Regions from separate parts of the Homo sapiens genome. Here region 2 is linked to region 1. The links come from fine-mapping of genetic effects on gene expression. Tissue or cell type: whole blood. Region 1 holds a variant in brackets; the other region holds the start of a gene. All regions are shown on one strand. Distances are from middle to middle.

Evidence for each region. PIP is the estimated chance that this variant, and not a neighbour inherited with it, causes the effect.
Region 2: RINT1 starts here. The variant in region 1 is fine-mapped to the expression of RINT1 in whole blood (TOPMed, PIP above 0.99).

What each region holds. Positions count from the first base shown.
Region 1 is chr7:105,561,667-105,569,772 of GRCh38, forward strand. It overlaps RINT1 (RAD50 interactor 1), which reads left to right. Exons shown (of 15, transcript NM_021930.6): 12 at 2,067-2,281; 13 at 3,611-3,791; 14 at 3,864-3,982; 15 at 5,453-6,011. The coding sequence ends at 5,645. It overlaps EFCAB10 (EF-hand calcium binding domain 10), which reads right to left. Exons shown (of 5, transcript NM_001355526.2): 2 at 7,741-7,905; 3 at 7,537-7,624; 4 at 5,801-5,824; 5 at 3,458-3,781. The coding sequence ends at 3,781. Among named protein-coding and RNA genes, the nearest start is that of EFCAB10-AS1, 5.4 kb to the right of the region's middle. The variant T/A (reference allele first, on the strand shown) is at 3,797.
Region 2 is chr7:105,528,949-105,537,054 of GRCh38, forward strand. RINT1 (RAD50 interactor 1) reads left to right here and starts at 3,253. Exons shown (of 15, transcript NM_021930.6): 1 at 3,253-3,409; 2 at 3,876-3,921; 3 at 7,617-7,801. The coding sequence starts at 3,368. It also overlaps the pseudogene LOC100131785. RefSeq lists enhancers at 2,534-2,583, 2,871-3,448, 3,034-3,333, 3,424-3,603, 3,449-4,025.

The DNA of each region.
Region 1 (8,106 bases):
TTCTTCTGCCTCAGCCTCCCGAGTAGCTGGGATTACAGGCACCTGCCACCATGCCCAGGTAATTTTTGTATTTTTAGTAGAGATGGCATTTCACTATGTTGGCCAGGCTGGTCTCAAACTCCTGACCTCAGGTGATCCACCTGCGTCAGCCTCCCAAAGTGCTGAGATTACAGGCATGAGCCACCACGCCTGGCCGATAGTGTCATTTTTTTTAAGTTCATGATTACCGTACACAGAAGTTGAAAGAGAAAAATATTTTTCACTATATGTAATCCATGTGATACAAAATTCAAAAGCCACAAAACTGTATATATTGAAAATATATATATAGTGAAAATAAGTCTTAATTCTAATCTTCCCTAAAGCCAATCACTTTGATCAATTTCTTGTATATACTACTAAAGCTATTTATATAAATACTGGTGTGTGTATGTCAACGTGTGGTAACATACTATGCAAACTCTTCTGCTTTTTCCGGTTAACAATATATCTTGAGATTGTTCCATTTCAGAATAGTTTAACATTGACTAGTGGGAATGTAACATGGTACAGTTGCTGTGGAAAACAGTATGGCAGTTCCGCAAACTGTTTTTTTGTTTTCTGAGATGAGATCTCGTTCTTTCACCCAGGCTGCAGTGCAGTGGCACAATCTTGGCTCACTGCAACCTCTGCCTCCTGGGCTCCAGCAGTCTTCCCATCTCAGCCTCCTGAGTAGCTGGGAGGTCTGTGGCCACCACACTCAGCTAATTTTTAATTTTTTTCTAGAGATAAGGTCTCACTATAAAATGATTCTCTGGCCTCAGCCTCTTAAAGTGCTGGCACTATAGGCATGAGCTACCATGCCTAGCCTTTCAAACTGTTAAAACATAGACTTACCATAAGATCCAGCAATTCCACTCTTCAGTACATACCAAGAGAAATGAAACATATGTCCACATAAAAACTTGTACTGCCAGGCTTGGTGACTCACGCCTGTAATCCCAGAACTTTGGGAGGCTGAGGTGGGCGGATCATGAGGTCAGGAGTTTGAGACCAGTCTGACCAACATGGTGAAACACCATCTCTACGAAAGTTACAAAAAAAAAAATTAGCCAGGTGTGCTGGCACACGCCCGTAATCCCAGGTACTTAGGAGACTGAGGCAGGAGAATCGCTTGAACCCGGGAGGCGGAGACTGCAGTCAGCCAAGATCACCCCACTGCACTCCAGCCTGGGTGACAGAGCGAGATTCCGTCTCAAAACAAAAAACAAAAAAACAAAACAAAAAAAACTTGTACAAAAATGTTCACAGCAGCATTTGTTCATAATAGACAAAGTAGAAGCTACCCAAATGTCCACCAGCTGATGAATGGATAAATAAAATGTGGTCTATCTATATAATGGAATATTACCTGGCAATGTAAAAAAAATGAAGTGCTGATACGTGTTACAATATGATACGTGTTACAATATGGATAGACCTTGAAAATGTACTGAAAGAAGACAGTCACAACCAACCATACGTTGTATGATTTCATTTATATGAAATGTCCAGAACAGGCAAATCCATTGAGACAGAAAGTCAATTAGTGGTTGCCTATGAGTTGAGGGAGTGGGGAGACGGTATTAGAGGATAACGGCTTTTTTCTTGGTGATGAAAATGTTCTAAAATTGTGATGGATATACAACTGAATATATAAAAAAATCATTGAATTATACACTATTATTAGTTTTGAGATGGAGTCTCACTTTGTCGCCCAGGCTGGAGTGCAGAGGCATGATCTCGGCTCACTGCAACTTCCACCTTCCAGGTTCAAGCTAGGATTACAGGCACATGCCACCACACCCGGCTTATTTTTGTATTTTTAGTAGAGTTGGAGTTTCACCATGTTGGCCAGGATGGTTTCGAACTCCTGACCTCAGGTGATCCACCCACCTCAGCCTCCCAAAGTGCTGGGATTACAGGCATGAGCCACCGTGCCCGGTCGAATTATACACTTTAAATGGGTGAATTGTATGACATATGAATTCTATTTCAAACTGTTAAAAAAAAAGTATGCTAATGTGTTAACATGTTTTTGCTTTCAGTTCTTTCTACAACTTCAACAGGCTGCACTGGAGGTGTTTGCAGAGAATAATACTCTGAGTAAATTGCAGCTAGGACAGCTAGCCTCTATGGAGAGCTCTGTCTTTGATGACATGATTAACCTCTTAGAACGTTTAAAGCATGATATGTTGACCCGTCAAGTAGACCACGTTTTTAGAGAAGTTAAAGATGCTGCAAAATTGTATAAAAAAGAAAGGTATGTCCTCTATGTAAGTCAGCTCTTAACACCAGTTTGGTAAAAGTTAAAGAATATGTGGTCAGATTTTCAAGGTGTCTAGATAGAACCCGGTTTGGCCTTATGTACTTTATTGTTGATGGAAATATTTCTAAAGTATGTTCTCTTGGACATTTTTTTTGAGACAGTCCTACTCTGTCACCCAGGCTGGAGTGCAGTTGCACGATCTTGGCTCATTGCAACCTCTGCCTTAGAGGTTCAAGTGACCTTCCCACCTCAGCCTCCCAAGTAGCCAGGACTACAGGCATGCACCACCACACAAGGCTAATTTTTGTATTTTTAGTAGAGATGTGGTTTCACATTTTGGGCAGGCTGATCTCCAACTCCTGACCTCAGGCAAGCCACCTGCCTCGGCCTCCCAAAGTGCTAGGATTACAGGTGTGAGCCACCACACCTGGCTGACATTCTTAATCAGAATAAACTGATTATAATTTAGTTGTTTGTAAATATATCAATAGGATAGTGTGTGATCTGGGGTTGAATAGCCTAACCTGTCTCCCATTTTGCAAAGTAAAGTGCACCTGTGGTACTCTGCATACTTTTGTTGTGGTTTATCCCACTACCATTCACTGTGAACACCTGTGTTACTTTCATCCTTGATAGCAAGCAGTATCTTTTTGTCCTAGCATAGTCCCTGCCACACAGAGTGCTTAAAATTCGTTTATTAGTCCTGTTTTTACTAAAAATTAGAGGATAATATTAGCTGATGTCTTAATTAAAATGCTAAAATCAGGCTGGGTGCAGTGGCTCACACCTGTAATCCCAGCACTTTGGGAGGCCAAGGCGGGCAGATTACTTGAGGGCAGCAATTCGAAACTAGCCTGGCCAACATGGCGAAACCCTGTCTCTACTAAAAAATTCAAAGATTAGCTGGGCGTGGTGGTGGGCACCTGTAATCCCAGCTACTTGGGAGGCTGACACGAGAATTGCTTGAACCCTGTGGCTCTAGCCTGGCCAACAGAGCGAGACTCTGTCTCAAAAAAAAAGAAAAACTACATAAATAAAATGCAAAAATTAAGTGACATTTTAAATTGTAATTGCCTTATATCAGTAATTCACATATTAAAATTTGGGGATATTTTGGATATATCCCCATATTAAAGAGTATTTGAGAGTGAAAATATAAATACAGGTACATTTATTTTCTGATAGAGCTTTTAATGTTAGGCTGTATATTTTTTCTTATCCAAAATGCCCTAGGACAGAACACTTCCTCAAATTTAAAATGATTTAAAAACTTGAAAAATAGAAACTGATGAAAATTTTTTGGTAAAAATGTGTTTTTTCCAGATGGTTGTCCTTGCCATCTCAGTCAGAGCAGGCAGTGATGTCCCTGTCCAGTTCGGCTTGCCCGTTGCTGCTGACGTTACGAGACCATTTACTTCAGTTGGAGCAGCAGCTTTGTTTCTCCTTATTTAAAATTTTCTGGCAAATGCTTGTAGAGAAGCTGGATGTATACATCTACCAAGAAGTAAG[T/A]AAGAATAGACTGTTTTTGGGCTGTGATAATAAAGACAACTGTTATATGAATTATTCTTTGTTTCAGATAATTCTTGCTAATCACTTCAATGAAGGAGGAGCAGCCCAGCTGCAGTTTGATATGACTCGGAATCTTTTCCCTTTGTTTTCTCACTATTGCAAGAGACCAGAAAATTATTTTAAACAGTAAGCTCAACATTTAACAATTAATATTAATGTATCAAATTGTTACAGGAGGCTAACTCCTTTTAACTTTAGGGTTCTGGAGATGTTTGGGTGGGATAAGATCAGTTGAAATTTTAAAACATTGTCTATCTACTGTATGCTTACAGCACAATGGGGAAACCAAGATGATAGATGTGACCCATGACCTCAAAAAGTTTCAGAACTAGATATAAATTACCTGTTGGGTTTTGTTTTCTAGTATTTGGTTTAATGCTTCTAGTTGCTTAGTTACTGGAGGAATAAATAGAAAATGAAAACAAGTACAGTTGTGCCCTATTCACTAAATATAAGAAATTACAGGGCCGGGCGTGGTGGCTCACGCCTGTAATCCCAACACTTCGGGAGGCTGAGTTGGGCAGATCACAAAGTCAGGAGATCGAGACCATCCTGGCTAACATAGTGATACCCCCATCTCTACTAAAAATACCAAAAAAAAAAAAATTAGCCAGGCCTGGTGGCGGGCACCTGTAGTCCCACCTGCTTGGGAGGCTGAGGCAGGAGAATGATGTGAACCCGGGAGGCGGAGCTTGCAGTGAGCCAAGACTGTCTCAAAAAAAAAAAAAAATTACAAATATGTTTAATACCTAATAGGCCAGGCCTGAAAGAAATTTGTTTCCTTAAACATTTGACATTAATTTTGGTTCTAAATATAATTATAGTTTCAGAATTTGTTGATCTAAAATTTATAGGCCAGGCATAGTAGCCCACATCTGTAATCCCAGTACTTTGGGAGGCAGAGGTGGGAGAATTGCTTGAGGCCAGCTGTTTGAGACCAGCCTGGGCAACATAGCAAGACTCCATCTCTACAGAAAGTATTAAAATGAACAAACAAAAAAAAGCCAGGTGTGGGGGTGTGGACCTGTAGTCCTAGCTACTTGAGAGGCTGAGGCTGTAGTGAGCTATGATCGTGCAGTTTCACTCCAGCCTAGGTGACAGAGCAAGACCATGTCTCAAAAAAAAAAAGTAAAATTTAAATTATGTTTGGGTTTTGTGAGGTTATAAAGCATTCCTTTTAGACTTATAAAATGAAAGCTTATGTTTACACGTTTCATAGGACTGTTTTTAAAATTTATTTTAATGTTCTTTCTGCTGCTTTCATTTATCTCTTATTTTTGTCTTTTCCCATGTTCTAATCTACCTAAAGTTATAGCTATATTTAATATAGTGTTAATATTAAGTATTGTATTTAGGGAAATAACGGATACATATTGAAATAGGGATCGTATTACCTTATAGTAATCTAAAGAAATAGCAACTCTGCACCTGTGTAGTCTTACCATGTTAAAAGAACCAAATAATAAATCCATAAATATTTTTATAGAGAACATGTGGACCAGCAGTGCAGAGAAGCTGTTTAGGATTCTCAAAATTGTAATATAATTGATGCAGATAATGGAGATCTCATTTCCCTCCTTTGTTTTCCCTAAACAGTATAAAAGAAGCCTGTATTGTTTTGAATTTGAACGTCGGTTCTGCACTACTGCTGAAAGATGTACTGCAGTCAGCTTCAGGGCAGCTTCCTGCCACAGCAGCATTAAATGAAGTTGGAATTTACAAACTGGCTCAACAAGATGTTGAGATTCTACTTAATTTGAGGACAAATTGGCCTAATACTGGAAAATAATGTCTTTCAGAAAAAGGTTTCTTTGGTTTTTGTTTCTAAGAAAGAGGAAGCCAATTGGATTTCAAGTTATATGATGAAATTCTGAATTAATGAAACTGGAAAACTTTATAGAATTACTTATTATCTTGGATTTATGGTGTTATTAAAATGCTGACCATATTTCCTTCATCCTCTTGTTCCTAAGGAAACAAAAACAGAAAACGAAACAATGAAAACTCAATTCTATTTACAAGTATAAATGCTGAGTATGTCTGTTGAAGACGAGCAGAGATATTAAATTATAACCAACTTTCAATTTCCTGTGCTAATTAAGGGAAATTCTGTTGTGGATAATCAAACATAGCCAATAAATTTTTTTAAAACTCCCTTTGAATGCATATTTGTAATTGAGGCACCTGTATCTAGTTTGGGAATTAACTGTATTTCCATGAGGAAACTGGCAGGGCACAGTGTCTCATGCCTGTAATCCCAGCACTTTGGGAGGCTGAGGTAGGAGGATTGCTTGAGGCAGGAGTGCGAAAACATCCTGGCCAACATGTCAAGACCCTGATGCATGCCTGTAGTTCTAGCTACTTGGGAGGCTGAGGTGGGAGGCTAGCTTGAGCCCAGGAGGTCAAGACTACAGTGAGCTCTGATTGTGACACGGCACAGCAGCCTGGGCAAGCGAACAAGACCCTGTCTCTAAAGAACAAAACAAAACACATTGTGAGATGGTGAATAAGATAGGATTGTTCTTCATTTCTCACAAATGCCCTTCTATTTTAAATGCTTCCTAGTTTCATTCTGTGTGACAGTGGGCAACCCTTTCTTTCTGGATGAAACATTTCAGGCCATGGCACTCTGACTCAAACATTCCCATGTGGTAGGGAATGTAATTAAACATTTTTATTATTTATGTAACTTATGAGACAAAAGTCTCAAAAGTTTATTTTTTCTTGTAACTTTTCCTTGTCCTTGGGGTATATTCAATAATAGTTACTTGACTAATAAAATCTCAGAGTAAAACTCTTTAAAAAATTGAGCTAGATTCCCTGGAAACTTTCCACAACTATTAAATTTTATTCCAATGGTTTTTCTCTGACTTAGCAGTGGGTTAGTACTTTTAATCCTGTAATATCTCAAAATCTAAAATTATCAGACTAACATGCAGCCTATGCTTCTGATAAACATTTACTTTGTGATAATTTTGAGGAAATATTTTGAGATAGATTCTATTAGTATGTATTTTATAGAGAGAGTTTCCAGCTAGTGTGTTGAGCTCAAAATGTTTCTGTTTGTTAGTTGTCCTAGCATATTGGTGCTTCTTCACCTCATCCTTTGAGAATTGCTGGGGCTTCCTATTTAGAATGGAGCTGGCTGGGCACAGCCCATTACATGCCTGTAATCCCAGCACTTTGAGAGGCCGAGGCAGTGGATCACTTGAGATCAGGAGTTTGAGACCAGCCTGGCCAACATGATGAAACCCTGACTCTACTAAAAATACAAAAAAATTATCTGGATGTGGTGATGCGCATCTGTAAGCCCAGCTACTGGGAAGCTGAGGCAGGAGAATCGCTTGAACCCGGGAGGTGGAGGTTGCAGTGAGCCGACATATTGCCACTGCACTCCAGCCTGGGCAACAGAGCAAGACTCCATCTCAGGGAAAAAAAAAAAAAAAAAAAGAATGGAGCTGCCTCTGGAACTTCCTCTCTAACCCCAGCATTTTCCCTTCCTATTCCCAAGTTTAGGGACTTTACCGTCAGCCTTACCTGTCCTCACTTTCCAGTCAGCTGAAAGTTTCAAGGGAACAAAATATTTCTTTCAAAAGATAGGAACCTGTTTTAAAGGTATTAATTGTGCTTCAAAATCATGCCACCTTATTAAAATATTTGTCACTTAAAAATAAACTTACACTTCCTCCTTGAATTTATCCAAAGTTATTTTATGTCCATCATCTTGTAAATCTTCATCTTCAGTGCATAGACCCAGGGTTTTTAGGGCTGTAAAATAATGAGAAGAAATGAAGTGAGAATTTTACAAAGTGAGAAGTATTTTCTGCTAGAAAAAACTGTGGAATGACCACAAACTATTACCTCAATTTGTAGAATGTACTGACCTTCTTTATACTGCACAAATGATATGGTGCCTCTGCCTGAGGAGTCCATCATCTCAAACATAGCCACAATGTTAGAGTTATCCATAAAGAAAGGAAACGCCACGCCTGTTACTTTTGCAATTCTCAGTCGTTCCAATAGAGATATTAAATATTCTTTTGGTTTTTCTGCAAAAGAATAGTTCCAGCTCTTTCTGATACGAAATTAAAATATGTCGCAAATAGAAGTAGTCATTTAACAATTATTAAACAGCTATAGCAAAGGCACTGTACTAGGCGCTGGGGACACAGGCCTTAGTTTTCATAAACAGTCCAGCAAGAAGGTAAGACATTGAACACTTAAATAATTACATATACAAATGCCCTATC
Region 2 (8,106 bases), 33 kb before region 1:
TGGCCAGCTAATATTTTGTATTTTTAGTAGAGACCAGGTTTCACCATGTTGGCCAGGCTGGTCTCGAACTCCTGGCCTCAAGCGATCCACGTGCCTTGGCCTCCCAAAGTGTTGGGATTACAGGCGTGAGCCACTGCACTTGGCCTATCTTTCCACTCTTGAAATTTTAATTTCTGCTGTCATATTTTTTCATCTCTGAATGCTTTTCTTATTTTATTTATTTTTACCCTCCCCATTTACAAGTGAGTGCTCCTTTTATTATTCATTTATTTATCTATTTAATTATTTATGTTTGAGACAGAGTTTTGCTTTGTTGCCCAGCTGGAGTGCAGTGGTGTAATCTCGGCTCGCTGCAACCTCTGCCTGCTGGGTTCAAGAGATTCTCCTGCCTCAGCCTCCTGGGTAGCTGGGATTACAGGCTCCCACCACCAGGCCTGGCTAATTTTTGTACTTTTAGTAGAGACAGGCTTTCACCATGTTGGCCAGGCTGGTCTTGAACTCCTGACCTCAGGCAATTTGTTCTGCCTCAGCCTCCCAAAGTGCTGAGATTACAGGCAGGAGCCACCGTGCCCAGCCAATGCTCCTTTTAAATAGTATCCTTTTCTCTCATATGTGGGAGCTTAACATTAAACAAATTGAATTCAAGGAGATAGAGAGTAGAATGATTGTTACCAAAGGCTGAAAGGGTAGCAGGGAGGAAGGCATAAATTGGGGATGGTTAATGGGTCCAAAAATACAGTTAGGGGCCAGGTGCAGTGGCTCATGGCTGTAATCCTAGCACTTTGGGAGGTCAAGACAGGAGAATCGCTTGAGCTCAGGAGTAGAGCCCAGCCTGGGCAACATAGCGAGTCACTGTCTCAACAAAAAAAAGTTAGCCAGGAATGGTGGTGCCAGTCTATAGTCCTAGCTACTCAGGAGGCTGAGGTGGGTGGATCCCTTGAGCCCAGGAGTTTGAGGTTACAGTGGGTTATGGCTGCACCACTGCACTCCTGCCTGGGCAACAGAGGGAGAACTTGTCTCAAAAAACAAACAAAAAAACCAAAACCAAAACAAATGACGACAACAACAACAATAAAACAGAGTGACTACAGTTAATAATTTATTGCATATTTTAAAATAACTAAAAGAGTGGAATTGGACTGTTCCTAACACAAAGAAATGATAAATTCTCAAGATGATCAATACCCCAGTTACTCGGATTTGATAGTTACACATTGTATACCTGTATCAAAACATCACATGTCAGACGGCTGGGCAGCCATGGCGTCCTATATCGATGAACACGACTGTGAGCCGTTGGACCCTCAAGCAGGAGACTCGAACCAACATGGTGCTGGAGCTCGTAAGGTCACTTTTGAATAGGATGGACTTTGAAGACTTGGGGTTGGTAGTAGATTGGGACCACCACCTGCCTCCACCGGCTGCCAAGATTGTGGTTGAGAACCTCTCCAGGACAGTCATCAGAGGCTCTCAAGGCTGAGCTCAAGTGCCCCGTGTATCTTTTGGAATCTGAGGAGGAGACTGCCATTGAGATGCTTCCCAACACCTTTTTCATTCCAGTTGCATTCTGCCCTGGCTAAGCAAGACAAATTCCTGTCCCTTGTGCCGCCATGAGCTGCCCACTGATGACTACACTTATGAGGAACACAGACGAGATAAGGCTCGAAAACAGCAGCAGCAGCAGAACCGACTGGAGAACCTCCATGGAGCCATGTACACGTGAGGAGGCTGGGGCTGAGCGCCGGTCCTCTGTGTCTTCCCTACAAACCTTGAATCCTCATTAAAATTTCTTTACCCGTCCCCCGCCCCGCCCCAGAAAAAAAGGCCGGGCGCAGTGGCTCACACCTGTAATCCCAGCACTTTGGTACGCCAAGGCGGGCAGTTCACCCGAGGCCGGGAGTTCGAGACCAGCCTGACTAACATGGAGAAACATCGTCTCTACTAAAAATACAAAATTAGACGGGCGTGGTGGTGCATGCCTGTAATCCCAGCTACTTGGGAGGCTGAGGCAGGCGAATCGCTTGAACCTGGGAGGCGGAGGTTGCTGCGAGCAGAGATAACGCCATTGCACCCCAGCCTGAGCAAAAAAAAAACAAACACACATGTACACTATAAATATATACGATTATGTTCCCATAATAGGTAATTTAAAAAATAGTATCCTTGTTTTTTTTTTTTTTTTTAAATGAGACGGAGTCTTGCTCTGTCGTCCAGGCTAGAGTGCAGTGGTGCGGTCTCTGCTCACTGCACGCTCCACCTCCCGGGTTCACGCCATTCTCCTGCCTCAGCCTCCTGAGTAGCTGGGACTACAGGCGCCCACCACCACGCCTGGCTAATTTTTTGTATTTTTAGTAGAGACGGGGTTTCACCATGTTAGCCAGGATGGTCTCGATCTCCTGACCTCGTAATCTGCCTGCCTCGGCCTCCCAAAGTGCTGGGATTACAGGCGTGAGCCACAGCGCCCAGCCATCCTTGTTTTATGCTTGCAATAGTAATTTGTAGCTCGATTATATATCTCTGTGCACATGTATTTGATTTTTCTTCTCACCGTGTGGTTTCTTTTTCCTCTGAGGGTTGCTTTCCCCCCCCCTTGTTTGTTATGGTCTCTATGGTACTCCTTCCGTGTTAGTTTGTTTAAGAGGCTGTCAAGTCCACAGGTCCTCTACACAACCCTTGCTGCTAGGTAGCTCCCTTTCCTCCTCCCTGGTAAAAGACAGGGTTTTGGGCGAAACACATGTTAGATGCTCTGTTCTCTTCATTCAGCTCCCAGAACGCTTATAACCACCTCTACACCCTCTAGGCAGGAAATCAGAAGCTCATCTCTAGGGACTCTGACCAACGTTAAAAGAAATATCTAAAGATACTGACATTCATTGGAAACCCCCAACTAAATATTCGAACCAAATAACCCTGCACCGAAGCTCCTAGTCAACAAGCCCCCCACACTCTCAGAACATCTGGATATTGCCTAAAATATAAATTTAAATTATTCATATTGAATTTAAGGCGTTGGGAGAGGGATATCTTAAAGTTCCATCATTAAGAGCTTCAATAAAGTGGAGGGGACTTTTACCGCGGTGGAGTGAGCGAATCCCTTCTCTGGAGCTCCATAGGGGAGGGTGCCCGCTTCCTGAGTGGCCGTTCCGACCTCCGGTCAGGAGGGGGAGGAACAGAGCACGGCCGGCGGCTGCACGGGCAGGGCCTCTCTGGGCTGAGAGGAAGAAACCAGTGAGACATCGAGAGGAAGTCGCTGTGGCACTCAGTCCTACGGCCTCCGAGGCTGGGTAGTGAGTGTGTCGCTGGCCTTAGCCAGACTCCACAGGCCACGCTGGCTGCGAATGGAGCCGAGGACTCGCGCGGAGGCGAGATGCTACCAGCCGGCGAGATCGGCGCCTCTCCTGCAGCCCCGGTGAGACGGCCCTGGCGTCCCTGGGAGGGGACATTGGTGGCCCATTGAGGTGGCACAGACCTCCCGGGGGAGATAGTCCCGGTGCGGTGGCCCTGTAAGCTTGTGAAGGTGCTTCCTGCGGCTTAGATTAGAGGCCCTTGTAAGACCTCCTAGAGGAGGCGGTAGTCCCCGTGAAGTGGCTTTGGCGGCCCTGGTGAGATGACAGATTTCTCTAGGGAGGTGGCTCTAGTGAGCAGGCAAGGTAACTCCAGGTCCTGCGGAGGTGACACACACCTCCTGGGAAGGTGGCGGTGGCACCAGGACAGTGGCACTTTGAGGTACCTGATTCGGACGGCCCTGGTCGCTCAGAAAGTGGGAGAGCGTCTGGAACCTCTCTTGCCTCCAGTGGGTGCCCTTTGGGAGCCCCGTATGCTTTCCATCCACGACTTTAATCTTAATGTGCTTGTCACATCTGTTCTTCTTCTAGTGCTGCTCTGAAAGTGGTGACGAAAGGAAGAACCTCGAGGAGAAAAGTAAGCCAGCTCCAAACACCTTAGCTTTTTCTTCCCGCCCAAACTCAGCCTTCCAGGGTCTGCAATATAGAAAGGTTCTTTGCCTATCTTTTAGATGCAGTACCGTTTTCTGCACAATATGCTTATATGGTAATACTGATGACCATGATACACATATTTTTGTCTTTCTAAAATTGTAAAATATGGGATGCTTTGGAGAAGAGCACTTCCCGATCCATACCTAGTACAGGGACTAGAGTGTTTTCGCTGGAAGTCTGCCTATCATACAGTACTCAGAATAATTGGGGCCTGCCTGTCATTTTAATGAAACATCAACTTACTAAGCATCAGGAATTTGGAGGGGCCCATGATCTAGGACAGACGACCACCACCCTAATTGGGTTCAAAGGAGGCAAATGACAGTTGTTTAGTTCACCTTCAGTAAATTGGCAATTTAAAATTGCTCTGGCAAGAGCACAACGGATAACTTGGGTTCTGGATCTTGGACTGGACAGGAAAGGGGGAAAAGGTCAGTACCACCATTTCCTCCCTAGTACGGGAGTATATGTCAGGGTTGTGGACTTTTGCCATTTTACTTTGATGGCAGGTTATTGCAAATCAAGGGCTCTTTAGGGACCTTTGAAGTGACATTTTTTGGGAGAGGAAGGGGAAAAGCATGTGATAGCTCTGCTATTGGGATTTTTGGTTCTTTTGACTGTGGCAAACAGTTGGGAATGTGTAGCAGTAAGAAAAACGGTGCCCACATTAGCACATGGCCCTTAGGAGTAAGATTTGCCCTTAACATTAGCGGCTGATAGAATCTGCCTCAGAAAGAAGGCTCTGAGCAGTCCATAGCACATGACTGTCATAACTGCCACATCTCAGCTCCTTTTTCTTGAAGGATTTCAGAGTGCCTTGTATCTCTCAGTTAAACCCTTCCCTTTCCATTTTCCACCTTTGCCTCATTCAGATGCCTGGAAAGTAGTCTGATGCCTACTGAGCTGTCATTTTAATAAAATAATAGATGTAGACTATCATATCAAGGACTTTGACCTTGTTCCTCTTTCCACAGCTCAAACTGCTTTGCAGTTAGGAGTGCTCTTTACAAAAAATAGAAAAGGAGACACATAAAAACCTCCCAAACCACCGGTGTGTCATTTTGAAGAATGTCATTTCACTAAGAATGTACTATGCCACATTTGAATGGTTACACATCAAGGGTGTAATTTTTTTTTTTTTTGAGACTTAGTCTCACTCTGTCTCTCAGGCTGGAGTGCAGTGGCGCGATCTCGCCTTACTGCAAGCTCCGCCTCTGAGTTCAAGTAATTCCCCTGCCTCGGCCTCCTCAGTAGCTGGGATTACTGGTGCCCGCCAAACACCCGGCTAATTTTTGTATTTTTAGTAGAGGCAGGGTTTCACCATTTTGGTTAGGCTGGTCTTGAACTCCTGACCTCAGGCAATCCACCGTCCTCGGCCTTCCAAAGTGCTGGGATTATAGGCATGAGCCACTGTGCTCAGTGGGTGTAATTTTTTTTAAAAAATGAAGGTAGAATTTCCTCCCTAAGATACAGCAACTTTAGCATTCACAAAACATTTCCTGCCTCCATTTATCTGCAGATACACCACACAAATCACTTGTTTTATTTAAGATTTAAAAAAGGCATTGTGAGTTCTGTACATAATAGTAGATTATTATACGTTAATATTATATATAATTATATAGTATAATTAATATATAATTTGTATTATATAGTCCCATTTATAACCTTGAGATATAGGCTGGGGCAAATGTTACAATTTGTTTTCTAGTTGGAAAATTGAGGCATAGTGTTATGTTAATATTGCCTCTCCTACCCTCTAAATTGTCAATTTAAAATTGCTCTGGGAAGGCACAATGTATAGCTTGGGTTCTGGATCTTGCACTGAACAGGAAAGGGGGAAAAGGTCAGTACCACCTCCTGATTCTCACAGCATGTGAAAAATCTTTTAATTTAATTCATATAAGTTAAGTAGAACAAAGGAAATTTTGTTTGTTGGGGTGTAGGGGTGGAGACAGGAACATACTCTGTATAAAACATTGGTATATATTCTGTTAATCTTTACATAAATAGTTGACCAATATCTGACATTTACATTTTGCACTTAGGCATATCATTATTTAGATATTAATATTAATAAGCCTAATGTGTATTGGACTTATTAAATGTCACAAAACAGGTAGTTTATTTGCCATGGAAAGAATCTCACTTTATACTATTTAGTGGTTGCATTTGTCATTTTGATTTTTTCCTAGTAATTTGTTCTCTCATATTTTCTTTTTTCTGTTTCTGACAAAGATATCTTTGTACAATGACATCGATGACATTTGAAGCTTAAAAACCTTTTTTTTTTTTTTTTTTGAGGCAGAGTCTCACTCTGTTGCCCAGGCTGGAGTGCAGTGGCGTGATCTCGGCTCACTGCAACCTCCGCCTCCCGGGTTCAAGCGATTCTTCTGCCTCAGCCTCCCGAGTAGCTGGGACTATAAGCGTGCACCGCCATGCCCAGCTAATTTTTGTATTTTTAGTAGAGACAGGTTTTCACCATATTGGCCAGGCTGGTCTCGAACTCCTGACCTTGTGATCTGCCTGCCTCAACCTCCCAAAGTGCTGAGATTACAGGCCTGAGCCACCTCGCCCAGCCAAACCTTTTTTACTTTTTTGTTTGTTTGTTTGTTTGTTTTTAAGAGATGAGGTCTTGCTCTGCTGTCCAGGCTGGAATGTAGTAGTGAGATCATGGCTCACTGCAGCCTCCATCTCCCAGGCTGCTCAAGCAATCCTCCCACCTCAGCCCACCTGAGACTACAGGTGTGTTCCACCATTCCTGGCTAATTTTGTTAGATGAAGTCTTGCTTTGTTGCCTAGGCTGGTCTAGAACTTCTGGGCTCAAGTGATCCTCCTGCCTTGGCCTCCCACAGTGCTGGGATTACAGGTGTGAGCCCCTGCGCCCGGTCTTTTTAAAAACACTTTAAAACAAGAGTCTTCTTTTGGTGTTGCCCTAGACCATACTACTGGTTCCTTACACATTTTGAAAAGGTATTATTCCTTGTCTATTGAAACCTGTGGTTACTGGATCACACTTTAGGAATTTTTCCTTTAATACTTCCCTCAGCTCTTAAGCATTTTGCAGTAGTTGTTTGATAGAGTGCTTTAGAGCTATTCTTCTGGGCATTTGTCTGTGTGTGTTGTTCTTTAAATTATTAACTTTGTTTTGTTTTGGTTTTGTTTTTTGATACAGAGTCTCTGTCGCCCAGGCTGGAGTGCAGTGGCGCTTTGTTTTGGTTTTGTTTTTTGATACAGAGTCTGTCTGTGTCGCCCAGGCTGGAGTGCAGTGGTGTGATCTTGGCTCACTGCAACCTCTGCCTCTTGGGTTCAAGGGATTCTCGTGCCTCAGCCTCCCGAATAGCTGGGACTACAGGCCTGTGCCCCCACGCCTGGCTAATTTTTGTATTTTTAGTAGAGACGGGATTTCGCCGTGTTTGCCAGGCTAGTCTTAAACTCCTGGCCTCAGGTGATGCACCTGCCTCAGCCTCCCAAAGTGCTGGGATCACAGGTGTGAGCCACCGTGCCTGGCAAAATTATTAACTTTTGAAGGCAGATAAACTGCTTTTATATGTTTTATATTTTCTTTAACTCCATAGTACTTAGTGGCGTTGAGTAATTGTTATTCTTTTGTTGTAGGTGACATAAATGTTACAGTTCTTATTGGAAGTAAACAAGTCAGTGAAGGTACAGATAATGGTGATCTCCCTTCTTATGTGTCTGCATTCATAGAAAAGGAAGTTGGAAATGACCTTAAATCTTTAAAGAAACTTGATAAACTCATAGAACAGAGGACAGTAAGTAAAATGCAGTTAGAAGAACAGGTAAGTATTGAAACTCACTGAAATAATTATCAGTGGAATACTTTTAACAATATAATATAAACATAATCTATTATATATAGAATTTTAAAGATATAGAACGTGACAAATAGTCTATTATATACTGTTTAAGAGGATTTAAGAACGTACATTGTATTACCTATTTTACAAATTAGGTAAAAGACAAAGTTCCTACTGATATGGTTTGTCTTCAAAACATAGTGAGACCTAACATTTTACATAGATTTTCATAGAGTGACTTTTTTTTCCTTTCAATCTGTTTCTAGTGAACATACAGTGACTTTTAA